Linked DNA regions of Homo sapiens: region 2 is linked to region 1. The links come from fine-mapping of genetic effects on gene expression. Tissue or cell type: whole blood. Region 1 holds a variant in brackets; the other region holds the start of a gene. All regions are shown on one strand. Distances are from middle to middle.

Region 1 (8,104 bases):
AAAGCTGTGGTTTCTCTTTAACAGATTCAGGGCCTCATCCTTTGACTCGGAACCAGGAAGGAATTAGGAGCGAGTCCTCCTGCCCAGAGAGCTAATTACTGAAATTCAGTGGCCTCACCAGGGCGAGTGGCGTCACCGGCCTGCATCCCCCAACAGCTCCTAATTTCTAACTGGTCAAAGTTAGACATTTCAGTACATTTTTATGGGCTGCCCAAAGCCAGCTGGAAGCTTTTTTTCCATAAACTCTCCCTGAGACAAGTAGCCAGGTTTCACATATTAAAATGAAAACGTCAAAAGCGTTAACAGGAAAAAAAAAAAAAAAAAAAAAAGCAGGCTCATTTGTGAGGCCTCAGCTCACAAAACCTGAATCAGGGTCCAACAGCATCTGCCTGTTTTTATTCTGCAAAGCTGAGATCAAGTTAAAAGGATGATGATAATCACTTGTTTATCTATTCACTCAGCAAACACTTATGGGACATTTACTGGGTGCCAGGTCTTGAACTGGGCACTGAGATGAGAAGCTGCCTGAGGCATGATGGTCCCATCCCACTGCCCTCCAGGGCTCAAAATACTTTATAGTTTACAAAGTGTTTTCACATGCAATTTTGTGAGCTGTGGGTGCCATTATTATCCACATTGCTTAATACATGGCAGAACCTGACCTTAGGTTGTCCAAGTCCAGATTCTAAGTCCAAGTCCAGTCCAGATCCTAGAGCCTGTCCACTCTTTCCTTCCTTCCTCTCTTTCTTTCTTGTTAGTTCTTTCTTTTTCTTTTTCTCTTTTTTCTTTCTCTTTCTTTCTTTCTTCCTTTCTTCTTTCTCTTTTCTTTCTTTCTCTCTCTCTCTCTTTCTTTTTTTCAAGACAGGGTCTTGCTCTGTCACCCAGGCCAGAGTGCAGTGGCACAATCATGGCTCACTGAAGGCAGCCTCAACCTCCCAGGCTCAATTGATCCTCCCAACTCAGCCTCCTGAGTAGCTGGGACTACAGGCGCCTGCCACCACACCAGGCTAATTTTTTAATTTTTCGTAGAGGCAGGGTTTCGCCATGTGGCCCAGGCTGGCCTTGAACTCCCAGGCTCAAAGGATCTTCCTACCTCGGCTTCCCAATTCCTGTGCTGGAATTACAGGCATGAGTCACTGCGCCCAGGCTACCTTGGTCCTTTTTTTTTTTTTTTTTTGAGATGGAGACTTGCTCTGTCGCCCAGGCCAGAGTACAATGGCATGATCTCAGCTCACTGCAACCTCCGCCTCCCAGGTTCAAGTGATTCTTCTGCCTCAGCTTCCCGAGTAGCAGGGACTACAGGCGCCTGCCACCATGCCCAGCTAATTTTTGTATTTTTAATGGAGACGAGATTTCACCATGTTGGCAAGGCTGGTCTCAAACTCCTGACCTCGTGATCCGCCCGCCTCAGCCTCCTAAAGTGCTGGGATTACAAGCGTGTGCCATCGCGCCTGGCCTCATCTGTTATTGGCCTAAGGTGGGCAATAGCTCCAAGAGGTTTAGCTGTCACTTATGATCTGTCCAGCATCCACCCCCACCTTAAAATTCTGGTTCCTTTTTGGAGGAGCTCCCCATTTTGAGGAAGGATAAAACTAGCACCCACCTCCCAAGGCCACCATCACTGTGAAATCCTAGTGGAGCTAAATCCTTCCATGGCATCTTATCCTGCCTGGCTAGTGGACAGGCACATGGAAAATGCAACACTAGCCAATCAGATAATCATTCTTGGGGCTGACTCTTGAGTGAGTGGTGAGGGGACCCTTGGAGATCACTCACCCACAGTAGAGAACCCTGGATCAGACTGTGCCTGCAGCCTTCCCTTGGCCAGAATTCCTCTCTTGGTCCTGCCCTTTGTCCAAGCCTGTTCTCCAGCCTCTTGTTCATTCTGTGTACCTTCAGTACCCTCCAGAAAGTCCCCCTTTTGCTTTGGATGGACAGAGTTGGTCCTGGTTGCTCATAATCAAGAATTCCAACTGATACAAGGCCCTTGGTCTCCATCCTGTTTACAGAGATGGCAGGAAATAGCCACCTCCCCTGGTGCTGTGGACACTGACCAAGGAGTTTCTTCCCAGGAAAACCATTTTTGGGTGCCATGAAAATATTGGCATAGCCTCTCTTGCCAAGGCCTGAGAATTATCACAGCAGATAGACCCAGTTGTCCAGGTTGCTGCCTGCATCCTGAAAGGCAGACATAAGTTCACGGCTCAGTGCTGGGTTCCACACCTCTCAGCTCTTCGAGCTGCCACCAAGCTTGTTCTCCCTGCAATTCCATTCCCATCTGGGAGCTTCTAGCCTTTTAAGGGTCATGAGTGTGAAGAAGGAGGCTGGGCCAGGCGCGGTGGCTCAAACCTGTAATCCCAGCACTTTGGGAGGCCGAGATGGGCAGATCATTTGAGGTCAGGAGTTCAAGACCAGCCTGACCAACATGGTGAAACCCCCCTCTCTACTAAAAAAATACAAAAATTATCCAGGAGTGGTGGCGCATGCCTGTAGTCCCAGCTACTTGGGAGGCTGAGGCAGGAGAATCGCTTGAACCTGGGAGGCAGAGGTTGCAGTGAGCTGAGATCGTGCGACTGCACTCCAGTCTGGGCGACAGACGTGTGGGGACTTGCAAGAGGACAAGGAATCAAGAGACGTGCACGCGTGTCATTAGGTGCTCAGGGGACGAGCTCCGTTCTCAAGGACTGTGAAGGAAGGTGGGTCGGTCAGTCCCTGGAGAAGCAGAACCAATGGGAGATACACTAGGTATGTATACAGATGCTTGTCCACTTACGATGGGGCTTCTCCAATACCGTAAGTGGAAGATGCATTTAATATACCTAACCTACCAAATATCATAGTATGATTTCTACTGAATGCATATAGCTTTTGCACCATCGTAAAGCCAAAAAATCATAAGGCATACCATCATCATTCAGGGACCATCTGTGTGTGTGTGTGTGTGTGTGTCTGTGTGTGTGTGTGTGTGTGTGTGTGTGTGTTTGTTCATAAACAGATGTATTTAAGAAATTAATTTGCATGATTGTGGGAGCTGGCAAGTCCAAAATCTATAGGGCAGGCCAGCAGGCTGGCGACTCAGCAGGAATTGATGCTTGAGTCTTCAGACAGAATCTTTTCTCCAGGAAACCTCAGTTTTTGTTTTTGTTTTTGAGATGGAGTTTCACTCTGTTGCCCAGGCTGGAGTGCAATGGCGTGATCTCGGCTCACTGCAACCTCCGCCTCCCAGGTTCAAGCGATTCTCCTGCCTCAGCCTCGCAAGTAGCTGGGATTACAGGCA[C/T]GCGCCACCACGACTGGCTAATTTTGCATTTTTAGTAGAGACAGGATTTCACCATGTTGGCCAGGCTGGTCTTGAAATCCTGACCTCAGGTGATCCGCCCACCTTGGCCTCCCAAAGAGCTGGGATTATAGATGTGAGCCACCGCACCCAGCCAGAAACCTGTTTTTACTCTTAAGGCCTTCCACTGATTGGCTGTGGCCTACTCACTCTATCGAGGGTAATTTTCTTTTTTCTTTTCTTTTCTTTTCTTTTTTTTTTTTTAGACAGAGTCTGGCTCTGTCACCTAGGCTGGAGTGCAGTGGGGCGATCTCGCCTCATTGCAACCTCCATCTCCCAGGTTCAAGCAATTCTCCTGCCTCAGCCTCCCGGGTAGCTGTATAGGTGTGTGCAATCACACCCGGCTAATTTTTTTGTATTTTTAGTAGAGACAGGGTTTCACCATACTGGCCAGGCTGGTCTCGAGGGAATTTTTCTTAAAGTCAACTGATGATAAATGTTAACCACATCTCTAAGATGCCTTGACAGCGACACCTAGATTGATGTTGGATTAAATAACTAGGTATGATAGCTTAGTCATGTGGACATATAAAATTGACCATCACAGAGGGGTCAGCCCAGAGTGGTGCCTCTGCCAGAGGGCGGTGACTACAGGCTGGATGAACCAGCCGTTGGAGTGGGAAACACTCCAGCTGACATTGGGTCATCTGGCTGTGGAAGGGATCTCCATAGTCACACCAGGAGTGCATGGCTAAATGCTGTGGTTAGCCGTGAAGGATGAGTGAATAAATGACTCGTGGTTTGAGCCTATGTTTTTCTTTGCTTTCCCTGTGACCTGCACAGACCAAGCTCCTTGCTGCAGAGGTCTGTTCCTTGGAATGCTTCCCCCCACCCACTTTCTGTCTAGCTGCCTTCGCATTTCTCTATTTTGGTTCGGTGTCCATACAAACTCTACTTGCCACCACACCAGCCACATATAACTCCCCAGAGCCTCTTTCCTGCAGGCTGACTGTTCAGATTCCCTGCACACACATGCCTGGGGCCTGTCGAAGCCTCATGGGTGAGACCCAGACCCCGATGGTTAGAACCACATCTGCAATGAAGAGCTCTCAGCTCACAGGCTCCTACCCTGAGGGATGTCCCACACAGCTGGGCTCTCTCCGTGCAGCTCCAGCCCAGATGTTTCCTCTCCTCTGCAGGGGGAGGCATCTGGGACTTTGAATTGTAATCTTGGAAGAAGCAGCTATAAGACACAGATCTGAATGGTCCCAGCTAAACCTCTTGGAACTATTGCCCCAACTTAAGCCGAAGATCAGGGAGCAGAACAGACAACAGAGAAAGGCCAGACGTGAGAGTTCCTTCTGAGAGCTGTAAAAGAGTGAAGATTAGCTTTAAAGAGCCATGGAATTCTGGCAACAGAATTTCCGCTTCTCCAAGCTGAAAGAGGTCCTGAAGGTCACTTAGGTATTCCTCCACCCAGGCAGGGATTACCTCTGAAACTCATAAGAAGGTCACATGTCATGGAACACTCAAACAGAAGGATTTTAAAATAAATTTTGGCAATTAAAAAACTCAAGAGGACTGCTGGGGACCTGACAAAAGTGGCATGGCATACATCTCTGGGCAAGGGAGGGGCAGAGGCCTGGACCCACTTATGGCTCATGTGCTGATTTACTACTTCATCTTGAATGCGTCTTTCCTGCAGGACTTTGGCCAGACCTCTCCTGCTTTGTTTTTTTTTTTTTTTTTCCAAGATAGAGTCTTGCTCTGTCACCCAGGCTGGAGTGCAGTGGCATGATATCGGCTCACTGCAACCTCCGCCTCCTGGGTTCAAGCCATTCTCCTGCCTCAGCATTCCCAGTAGCTGGGATTACAGGCGCACATCACCATGCCCAGCTCATTTTTGTACTTTTAGTAGAGACGAGGTTTCACCATGTTGGCCAGGCTGGTCTCAAACTTTTGACCTCATGATCTGCCCGCCTCGGCCTCCCAAAGTGCTAGGATTACAGGCGTGAACCACTGCGCCGAACCTCTCCTGCTTTCTAGATATCCGTTTCCCCATCTGAAAATGAGAAGTTGGAAAACTTGACTTGGAAGGTTCCCTCCATTAAGACACAGGGTCTCACTCTGTTGCTCAGACTGGAGTGCAGTGATGTAATCATAGCTTACTGCATCCTCGAACTTCTGGGTTCAAGCAATCCTCCTACTTCAGCCTCCTGAGTAGTTGGCGCTGCAGGTGCATGTCACCACCCCAGCTAATTTATTTTTATTTTTAGAGATGTGGTCTTGCTATGTTGCCCAGGCTGGTCTTGAACTCCTGGCCTCAAATGATTCTCCCACCTCAACCTCCTAAGTAGTTGGGATTTACATGAGTGGCTGGTATTGGCTTTTTTTAATTTTTATTTTTATTTTTTTAGACAGAGTCTCGCTCCTAGGCCAGAGTGCAGTGGTGCTATCTGAACTCACTGCAACTTCTGCCTCCAGGGTTGAAGTGATTCTCATGCCTCGGCCTCTGGAGTAGCTGGGATCATAGGCGTGTACCACCACATCCAGCTAATTTTTTTTTTTTTTTTTGTATTTTTTGGTAGAGATCTGGTTTCACCATGTTGGCCAGGCTGGTCTCAAACTCCTGGCCTCTGGTGATCCGCCCACCTCAGCCTCCCAAAGTGCTGGCATTACAGGTGTGAGCCACCGTGCCCAGACTGGCATTAGCTTTTGAATACACCATATCACCTGGGTTCAAACCTCAGTTCCACCAATACTAGTTGAATCATACAAATGACCCTGTTGTATCCACTATCTTCTTATTTGCTCTCCTCTGGCTATATCTTGGGCAGTTGGTTATATCTTGTCTCCTTCATGAAATGCCCAGCAAGAGCCTTGGCTCCCGGGGAGCAGCTCTCATCTCATACATTTCCTCTTTCTCCTACACACCCAGCTTGGGGCCAGGAGCTCATCCACCTCACGCGGATCGACTCATGGATTGCTTGATTCCAGAAAGGATGCCTTGTAAATACTGGAGTTCATTAATAAAATGACACCTCTGTATTTTAACGTGGGGAAAACTTTAAAGGTATCTTTAATTAACTATATCTGAGTCAGTCTTTTATGATCACACTGTTTTAATCATATCAATCAAAATCTCTAATTGAATGTAGTATGTAGACCTAATTGATAAAAAACAAGAAGACAAAATATCTCGCAAATAGTCAATGCAGCTTTTGGTGGGTCAAATCTTTATATAACAACCTTTATAAAGAATGACTGGGAGCAACTCATTTGTTCTAGACTTCATATATTGACCAGTGAGTCCATCTGAAGCCCTGATTAGAGAAGTGACCCATCCTAGGTTACCGAGTGAGGGAGAAACAAAGCTTAGACTGAGTTCATAGAATCAAATAATTTTGCCATCAGAGGCAACTTAGAGGTCATTGTGGTCTGACCCTCCTTGTCCTGATCACTCCTTGTCTCGACACCCTCCCACAATTATCTATCAATCTGTCTGTCCCCCTAGCCCCACCCCCTAGCTCTGGACCAGGAGCTTCTATTTTTTTTTTTTTTTTTTTTGGAGACAGTGTCTTGTTCTGTCACCCAGGCTGCTGGAGTGCACGGTGTGATCTCAGCTCACTGCAACCTCTGCCTCCAGGCTCAAGTGATCCTCCCACCTCAGGCTCCCAAGTAGCTAGGACCACAGGTGCATGCCACCATGCCCAGCTAATTCTTTGTATTTTTGGTAGAGATGGGATTTCACCAAGTTGCCCAGGCTGGGCTCGAACTCCGGAGCTCAGGCAATTCACCCACCTCAGCCTCCCAAAGTGCTGGGATTTCAGGCATGAGCCACCGTGCCCGGCTGGACCGGGAGCTTCCTGAGATCAAAGGCTGCATCTTATTCATCTTCATGCCACGCCTGTCATTCCTAGCATGGTGCCTGCCTACAGCATGGTTCGCTACACATGTGCACTATGTTGAAAGGGTGAACAAACCACCACTTTATCTTTAACAGATGGGGAGACTAAAATTTAGACAAGGGAAGGGATCCTTGGTTCCACAGCAAGCTGGCAAGGCAGGGAAATAGGATCTCCAGTGTCTGGTGAAGGCTCCCCTTTCTTTTCTACACCCCCTGGGTTCACAGAGAAGGCAGGCAGACTTCTCTCATTTCCCCACAAAAGCCACAGGTAAAGGTGTTTATAGTTTGGCAGCTAACCAAGGCCACAGGCATGCCAACAGGTCACAGTCTGACCCTGGCAACCATTTTTTTTAAAACTGGTGTTAATAACCGTGCTTTCTACTGTAATCTGAAAACTCTCTACACCTCCATGCTGAGGACATGATAAACCAACCCCGAAATTCAGGCCATAAAACATGGGCTCGTCTAACTGGTCACCTGCATAATAATTACTTCCAAAAATTATGTAATAATAATTATTCATATTTGTGAAAAGCCTCTTGTGTGTAGAGCAGTTTCTTTCTTTTTTTTTTTTTTTTTGAGATGGAGTTTTGCTCTTGTCACCCAGGCTGGAGTGCAATGGCACAATATCGGCTCACTGCAACCTACGCCTTCTGGGCTCAAGAGATTCTCCTGCCTCAGCCTCCCAAGTAGCTGGGATTACAGGTGGCCGCCACCATGCACGACTAATTTTTGTATTTTTAGTAAAGATGGGGTTTCATCATGTTGGCCAGGCTGGTCTTGAACTCCGGACCTCAGGTGATCCGCCCACCTCAGCCTCTCAAAGTGCTGGGATTACAGGCATGAGCCACTGTGCCTGGCTGTAGAGCACTTTCATATAGGCTAACTTGTTTGGTATTCAAATAAGTATTTCTGAAAGAAAA
Region 2 (8,097 bases), 40 kb before region 1:
GGTGGCTCATGCCTGTAATCCCAGCACTTTGGGAGGCCGAGGTGGGAGGATCACCTGAAGTCAGGAGATCGAGATCAGCCTAGCCAACGTGGTGAGACCCCCGTCTCTACTAAAAATACAAAAATTAGCCAGGCGTGGTCGTGGGCGTGGTGGTGGGCCCAGCTACTCAGGAGGCTGAAACAGGAGAATCACTTGAACCCGGGAGGCAGAGGTTGCAGTGAGCCGCGATTGGGCCATTGCACTCCAGCCTGGGTGACAAGAGCCAAACTCCATCTCAAAAAAAAAAAGACCCTAACACATAAAGAGATTTTGAGCTGTTAAAACCAAACCAACAAGGTGGGCAGCTTCATCCCTCCCTCCACCATCAGTCCTACAAGGTTAAGACATCTGACAGAGAAGGAGCCCTTGTCAAATTGGTAGTTCGCAAAAATAAAGGTGTAGCTTTTAATCTAAAATTCTACCCCAACACTAAGTTCCATAACTATTTTGATTAATATATTCTTAAGGATTTAGCGACCGTGTGTGTGTGTGTTTAGACGAAAACAGAAACGGTTCCTTAAAATATCCAGTTTGTAAAAGCACAGTGCCTTGAACCACTTAGTACTATCATTTTGATCAAGTACTATCAAGTACTATCACTTGATTGCTCCAACCCAATAAGCTTGGGCGAGCCTGGCACTGTGCTAGGATCTTCTGGAGAAATCCAAGAAAGGTAAGACTGCGGTTTTACTCCTCTTCACCTTCTCACTACTCGGATTTTGGGCAGGCAGGGGACCAGGGTGGGGGCTCCAATTCCCGGTTTGTGTTTGTTTTTTCAGGGGGCATCTTACTGAGCACTAAACACGCGCAGGTGCTGCACCAGATGCCAGGAGCCCCGCAAGCGGAGGAGCTGCGTACACGCGTGTCAGTTAACTGGGCGCACAGTGCCCGTGGCGCCGCAGACCCGGCCCTCAGACTCAGTTTCCCCTCACAGGGATCGCTCGCCCCGCCCCGCGGCGGTCTGGGGAGCAGCAGCCCCGGGCCCCGGCCCTGCCTTGCCGGTTTCCGCCGGTGCGGCTGCGTCCTTCACACTCCACCGGAAGCTCCGGGCCTGGCCGCCGGTAGGCGGTGGCGGAGGCGGCGCCGAGGTTGGCTGCCCTACACCCCTGCCCCGGGACCGCAGGGCGGCTCCCCGGCCCCCTTCCTCGCCCCGAACTCCCCGCTCCAGCTCCCGCTTGCTGAGGCGGGGACTCCTCGGGTGCAGCCGGGGACCTGGCACCTCGGCTGCAGAGACCGCCCCGGACTCAACTGCCCCCAGCCCAGCCGCGGGCGCCCCGGCCCCGCAGGGGCTCATTCCTCTTTCCGCGGGCACCGGCGCTGCCTGGCTCCCAGCGCTGCCCTCGCAACTGGATATGTGGAGGTGGCGACGCGACACTCCCCCGCCCTCGGGCGGGCTCACCGACCTGGCTGGGGGCTCAGCCTGCAGAGCCGGGCGGCGGGGGCTGTGCTGGCGCCGGCAGGCGCGAGGAATCACAGAGCGGGGCGCCCAGCCTCATCATGGGGCGGCCCACGGAGACTTCCCGTGGGAGTGGGGTCTGGTGCAGGGGCGCCCCAAAGGACGAGTGGGAGATGGGGACACGCGGCGCAGAGAGACTCCTCGTGGATGGAGCCGATGGAGGCCCAGTGTAGAAGAGAAAGGGGTCAAGGAGACGGATAAGGAGCCACCAGAGACGCGGGGGGAATTCCCCGCAGAGGATGCGGGAAGCCGGGGAAAGGAAGGGATTCCGGAAGGAAGGGCTGAGAGCCGGGTCAGGTGCTGGCAGGAGGGCTGGTTGGATAGAAACTGGGGCGGGCCCAGGGCATTTGGCGTCCCCGACATGCGTATACACTTGGAGAGATGATTCCCTGGAGATCCAAGTGCCTGTATAGACAATCTTTTCTAGAAGTTCTACCGTTAGGTGAGGCGAGAGTAGATGTAGAAATTGGAGACGAGAATAAAGAGTGTTTTAAAAGCGTGCGTGGTTACAGGACTGGCTCTGGGTTCAGGGGTCCCCACTCACTAGCTGTGAGACCTTGAACAAGTCGCTTAGCCTCTCTGTGCCTCAGTTTTCTCATCTGTAAGGTGGGGATGATGATGGCAATACCTGCTTCACAGAGTGAAAATTAGATGAGATGATGTCTGTAAAATTACGTAAGACGGTACCCAAAAGTAGTACTATTTTTCCCTTTTCTTATTAGAGCAGGTTGCGCACGTTTTGATGTCCGTGGGAATGAGCAGGTAGAGAGGGTGGTATTGAGGCCGGAGGGGAGAGAAGGGACCCACAGATGGGGAGAGAAGTCTTGGGTGCCTGTTTTATCCCAAACCAGGGGAAGGAGGGAACAGGTAGGGCTGGCTGCAGGAAAGCTTGCAGGTATGGGGTACACAGTTAAAAGGGAGTGTCTTCTGATAGTCTTGATGCAGGCCTGGAGGTCGTTTGTTATGGGGGTGGAGGTCCTGATGTACATTGTGGCGGTAAGATGCCGTGCTGTCTTTGCCACCAGCCTGTGGCAGCCCTGGTGTTACACCAGGGCAGGTGGGCAGTTTAATGTATCTCAGGCCAGATGACCTGCCCTGCCCACCTGTTGAGGCTCCAGTAGATAGACGTGAAAGCACAGTATAAGCATAATGCACCACTTTAATCCTTTTCTCTGAGGAGCTGGAAGGCCTGTAGTCACCATCTGAGCCAAATGTCATTCAAGTACTTCACTTGGGTTACACACCACACTTTGACCCACTATCTCATTTAGTCATCACAACAAATGGGTGAAATAGGTATTATTGTCCCATTTTACAGATGCAGAATCTGAGTTTCAGGGAAGTTAAGGACTTTGTCCCAGGGCCCACAGTTAGTAAGCAGTGGACCCAGGATTTCAACTCAGCTCTGTCTGACCTCAAAACCCATGATCTGAAACCACTGTGAAAGTTTGCAAAACCTCTGTAGCAGCCAAGCAGGATGGAAAGATGTGTAGGGATTGTCTTCTCCATTTGATAGATGAGACAAGAGCTGGGTACTCTGATCTCCATCCCAAGCACACAGAGCTTGGGGCCCCACAGCCCTGGTGTGAATCCCACTCCACTACCAGAGGCTGTGTGCCTTTGGACCAGGCATCTTGCTTCTCTGACCCTATATACAGCTGCAGAAGAATTCCTTGCAGGTTGCTGTAAGGATTTGGAGGGAAACTGTTGCCCAGCACACAGTACACATTCTGGGAGCCATCGTTTCCCCAGTGCACTTTTCCTGCAAATGTGGATCTACATCCCACTTGGATGCTGAGACCAGCTGCTGTGATCTTGCATTTGTTTAGCGCTTTGTTCTCCTTGAGGCAGTAAAGTGGTGGCACCTGACCGGAGCATGTAGCCACCTATGACTTCCTGAGTGGGGTGGTGTGGGGAGGGCCCTGAGGAGTCTGTGGTCCTAGGCCTTGGATTTCATCAGGGCTTTCCTGCTCCTTCTGGTTGCCTCAGTCCCAGGCAAGATAGGGTCCCAGAATCTTACAGCCCAGAGGCCACCTGTTGCAACTTCTTTTTTACAGATGGAGTCATCAGAACCCACTGTGAGGAAGTGACTTCTCCTTGAGGTCACCCAGACACTCCAAACAGAGCAGAGCAAAAGCGCCTAGAACTTGAAATTTTGGACCTGTCTCCAACACCCTGGGGATTTCCACCAGGAAGGTGAGCACCCCCACTGAGAATTCCAGGCTGCTCAGAGGTGCCAGGGAACACAGACCAGGGACCAGCTGTGGCCCCCTCCTCCGATGTGCCCAGGGAAGTGGGGGAAGCCAGCGGCAGCCTGCGATTCTCAACCAGGGGAACTCTCACTGTGCTTTCTGAGAGTCTGTGACACGGGTCATTTTCTCTGACTTGCTCTCTTGCTTTTTCTCACTCTAAAAAAAAAAAAAAATGACTGGACACTCCTAAAGCCTTCAGTCACCATCCAGGGGATTTTTATCGCCACAAAGGGTAATTCCTGCTCCATCCCTGCTGTGACTCAGCTGTGACGTTGAACCACACAAGCCAGAGAGAAGAAGATAAAGTCATCAGAGCTCCTACTCACCAGAGAGTGAGGCCCAGGCCAGGACTCCACAAGGCTGGTCCCCTGCCCTGGAGCAACTTAAACAGGCCCTCTGGCCAGCCTGGAACCCTGAGATGGCCTCCAGCTCAGGCAGCAGTCCTCGCCCGGCCCCTGATGAGAATGAGTTTCCCTTTGGGTGCCCTCCCACCGTCTGCCAGGACCCAAAGGAGCCCAGGGCTCTCTGCTGTGCAGGCTGTCTCTCTGAGAACCCGAGGTGAGGTGATGGAGGAGCGGAGGGTGGGCAGAAAGTGGGTGCCAGGGAGGGACCCCTGATGGGAGGTGAGGGGCAGAGGAGCCTGTGACTTCAGGCGGTGACTTTTCTTCTCTGGGCCTCAGTTTCCACACCCTTTTCTCACACTCCCTGACACTGCCCCTCTGGCTGTGGTGGAAGGAGAGGAAGCCACAGAAAGGCATCAGCTCCCACAGGGGAAAGCCATCCACACCGAGGAGAGCCTCGAGGCTGTGAGGCCACTGTCTCACTGTGTGGTCTGGTGCTCTGCTAATGTCCCTAAGCCGCAGCTCGCTTGTCTGTAAAGCTGTTTTCTGTGTCATAGAATTGTTAATGAAGCCCAATGAATAATAATCACAAAAGTCCTTATAATAACAAATATAAACCTCTTGGTGAATGACAAACTGTTAGACGAATATCTCTCCTTCCACAGCATTGCTCATCACCTCAGACCGTTTGCTGGGAACCCTTTTGGAGGGGACAAAGAGATCGATATATATTTGTGTATTTAATGATACTTAAAATATTAACAACCCAGAAAGGCATGATATCAGTACTATTGTGGACATCCCTCTTTAAGCAATTATGCACCTACTGTGTGCCAAATGCTCTGCCCTTGGGTCCTCAGCACAACTTAGAGGGGTGGATACTATTATGATCCTATTTTACAAATGAGAACACTGAGGCCTAACAGATTAGGTCAGCTTTGGTCAGTTTCCTGGCAAATATGCCCTTAAACTATCTCATGTGATGACCTTTTGTTTGCGGTTTTACAGCTTAAGAAGGTGGCAAAGCTGAATCAGGCAAGTGAGAAGTTCAAACATGACGACAAAGGAGGAGGCTGTGAGAATAGCGAGGAGAGGCTGTGGCCGTGGAAAGGCCAGCCAGGAGGTGGAGGAGCAGAGGTTCACTGGTTTTACCATCAAGCGGATTGTCAGGGTTCAGCTCAGGCTCTGGTAGTGGGTCTCCTGGTTTCCCCTCTCCCTCCTTCCAAAACCTGGCAGAGGAGGGAGCTGATTGGAAGTTGGAGGGCTGAGGCCTGAGGCCTAAGTCCTGAAGAGCTTCTACTCAGCTCTGCTCCTGACTCACTCTACCTTGACCAATCCACATGCCCTCTGGGGCCTCATTCCCTCACTTGTAAAATAGACTATCTCGGTAGCGGTAGCAGGTCAGAGACACCAGGAGCTTTGTAAAAACACAGTTGCTGGCCAGGCGCAGTGGCTCATGCCTGTAATCCCAGCACTTTGGCAGGCCGAGGCAGGAGGATCACTTGAGGTCAGGAGTTTGAGACCAGCCTGGCCAACAAGGTGAAACCTCATCTCTACTAAAAATACAAGAATTAGCTGGGTGTGGTGGTGTGCACCTGTAATCCCAGCTACTTGGGAGGCTAAGGCATGAGAATCACTTGAACCTGGGAGGCAGAGGTTGCAGTGAGCTGAGATCGCACCACTGCACTCCAGCCTGGGCTACAGAGTAAGACCCTGTCTCAAAAAAAGAAAAACCCCCAAAAAACAGACAAAAAACCCACGGGTACCCAGGTGTTACCCATTAGAATCTGACACCCATTCCTGATTAAGAACCTCTAGGACAGATGTTCTCTGAGGCCCTTTCTTGTTCTAATAGGCCATGATCCTCTGTAATTACTAAACATATAAGACCAAAACCAAATGGAGGACCAAATGAGAAGAGCAAATATAGTCACATGTCAGCAATCTTTTGCCTAAACCCCTGAGATCAGATGTGTTTTGTAATTCAGAATTTTTTTTAGAAAAGCAAATCAGGGCATCATGTAATTGTGGCAGGGAATGCGGCAGTGCCCTGTAATCAAGCACATTAATGTTTCTGCAATGAAACATGTATATATTCACACTAAGTGGGGCAAGTAAGGGCTATAATAGCTTCCGGTCAGTGCAGTCACGGCAGGTTTGGCAGCCCAGGAAGCTCACTGCAAACTACCAAAAAATGTGGGATACTCGGCAGTTTTGCGATTTAGGAACTGTGGCTCTGGGATTGTGGACGTACATGATCACCACCCTGCTGATAGTTGAGGCTTCTGGAGCTGTCAGGAGAGTGGATGGTGCAGGGAGCTGTAGTGCCTCTCTCCAAGGCTTTGTCCATGTTTCCCCAGGAATGGCGAGGATCAGATCTGCCCCAAATGCAGAGGGGAAGACCTCCAGTCTATAAGCCCAGGAAGCCGTCTTCGAACTCAGGAGAAGGTACGTTGGCACATCACAGAAAGGCATTTGTCCGTTGTCTTGATTTTTCCAGGTTGAAGCCAAGTAGACAGCTGCCCACTCCACCCCTGGCAGGCACCTCCCAACTAGTCCTGAGTCCAGACTGAATTTGCTTTATAAGGAATAAGGAGACTGATGTTCACAGTGGTGAAGTGTCTTGCCTAAAGCTACCTGGCAATAGACTTAGAGTGAGAACAGTCCAGACCAGGGGTCCACAAACTACGGTTCATGGGCCACATTCTGGCCCACCACCTAAGCAACGAGCTAAGAGTGGTTTTTATATTTTCAAATGGTTGAAAAAATCAGAAGAATGATAGGCCATGCATAATGACCTGTAATTCTCGAGGCTGTGAGGCCACTCTCTCACTGTGTGGCCTGCTGCACTGCTAATGTTCTCAAGCCACAGCTTGCTTGTCTGTAAAACTGTTTTCTGCATCACAGAATTGTTATGAGCCCCAATCAATAATAATCAAAAAAGTTCTTATAATAACAAATATAAACCCCTTGGTAAATGACAAACATGCCTGTAATTCTGAAGTGTTAGAATTCAAATTACATAGAATTACATGCCTGTAATTCTAACACTTTGGGAGGCCGAGGTGGGCGGAGAGCTTGAGCCCAGGAGTTTGATACTAGCCTGGGCAACATGATGAAACCACATGTTTACAAAAAATATAAAAACTAACCTGGCATGGTGGCACATGCCTGTAGTCCCAGTTAGTCTGGAGGCTGAGGTAGGAGAGTCGCCTGAGCCTGGGGAGGTCGAGGCTGCAGTGAACCATGATCGTGCCACTACACTCCAGCCTGGGTAGCAGAATGAGACCCTGTCTCAAAAAAACAAAAAAAGATATTTTGGGACACATGAAAATTATATAAAATTGAGTACTTGCAACAAAGACTTCATAGCCCAAAATATTTACTATCCACCCCTTTACATAAAAAAGGTTAGCAAACTCCTCATCTAGATGGTTCTGTCTGCCTCTGTTTGCCTTTAGGTGGGGAGAGACCATTATCAGCTCACGTCCTGAGCTCTGTCAAACGGTGCTTCTAGGAATAAGAGACACATTTGGAAGTGTGATAGGCCAGAGAGACATTTTCAGGAGCTACAATTTAGAACCCTGGCCCTCCCAAGCTGGAAGGACCCTCATAGGTTACATGTCCTGCTCAGAGGTTCCCACATGCTATCCAGAACTGATCCATTCCCACCAGCTCATGACAAAATGATAAAAATAAGGCAATTCTATAAATCAGTTTATGTAAACTAAATTCTTTCCATTTATAAAACCAAACTTTTACTCTGAGATTGCGTCTGTCCTATGCATGTCTTTATATAAATGAAAGGATGTAATCGTAGATGATAGTTTTTGGCAAAGCCTTTGCTAAGTAAAATTAAAAAGATGACAATCTCTTTGTTAATCTCTCAATTTAAAAAAAAACACACTCGTATTGGTCCACGAATCCAAACAGGCAGGAGTCACTGCTCAAAATCAAATCCTCTTGTTTACACACGGGGCCCTGAGACCTGCAGAGGAGTCTCGTTGCT

The links. PIP is the estimated chance that this variant, and not a neighbour inherited with it, causes the effect.
Region 2: TRAF1 starts here. The variant in region 1 is fine-mapped to the expression of TRAF1 in whole blood (TOPMed, PIP above 0.99).

The regions. Positions count from the first base shown.
Region 1 is chr9:120,882,499-120,890,602 of GRCh38, reverse strand. It overlaps a transcript of PHF19 not described here. Among named protein-coding and RNA genes, the nearest start is that of PHF19, 9.4 kb to the right of the region's middle. The variant C/T (reference allele first, on the strand shown) is at 3,278.
Region 2 is chr9:120,922,144-120,930,240 of GRCh38, reverse strand. It overlaps TRAF1 (TNF receptor associated factor 1), which reads left to right and starts at 3,445. Exons shown (of 8, transcript NM_005658.5): 1 at 3,445-3,691; 2 at 3,940-4,305; 3 at 6,449-6,536. The coding sequence starts at 4,166. RefSeq lists a silencer at 917-1,506 and enhancers at 3,167-3,486, 3,827-4,166, 4,627-4,696, 4,293-4,816.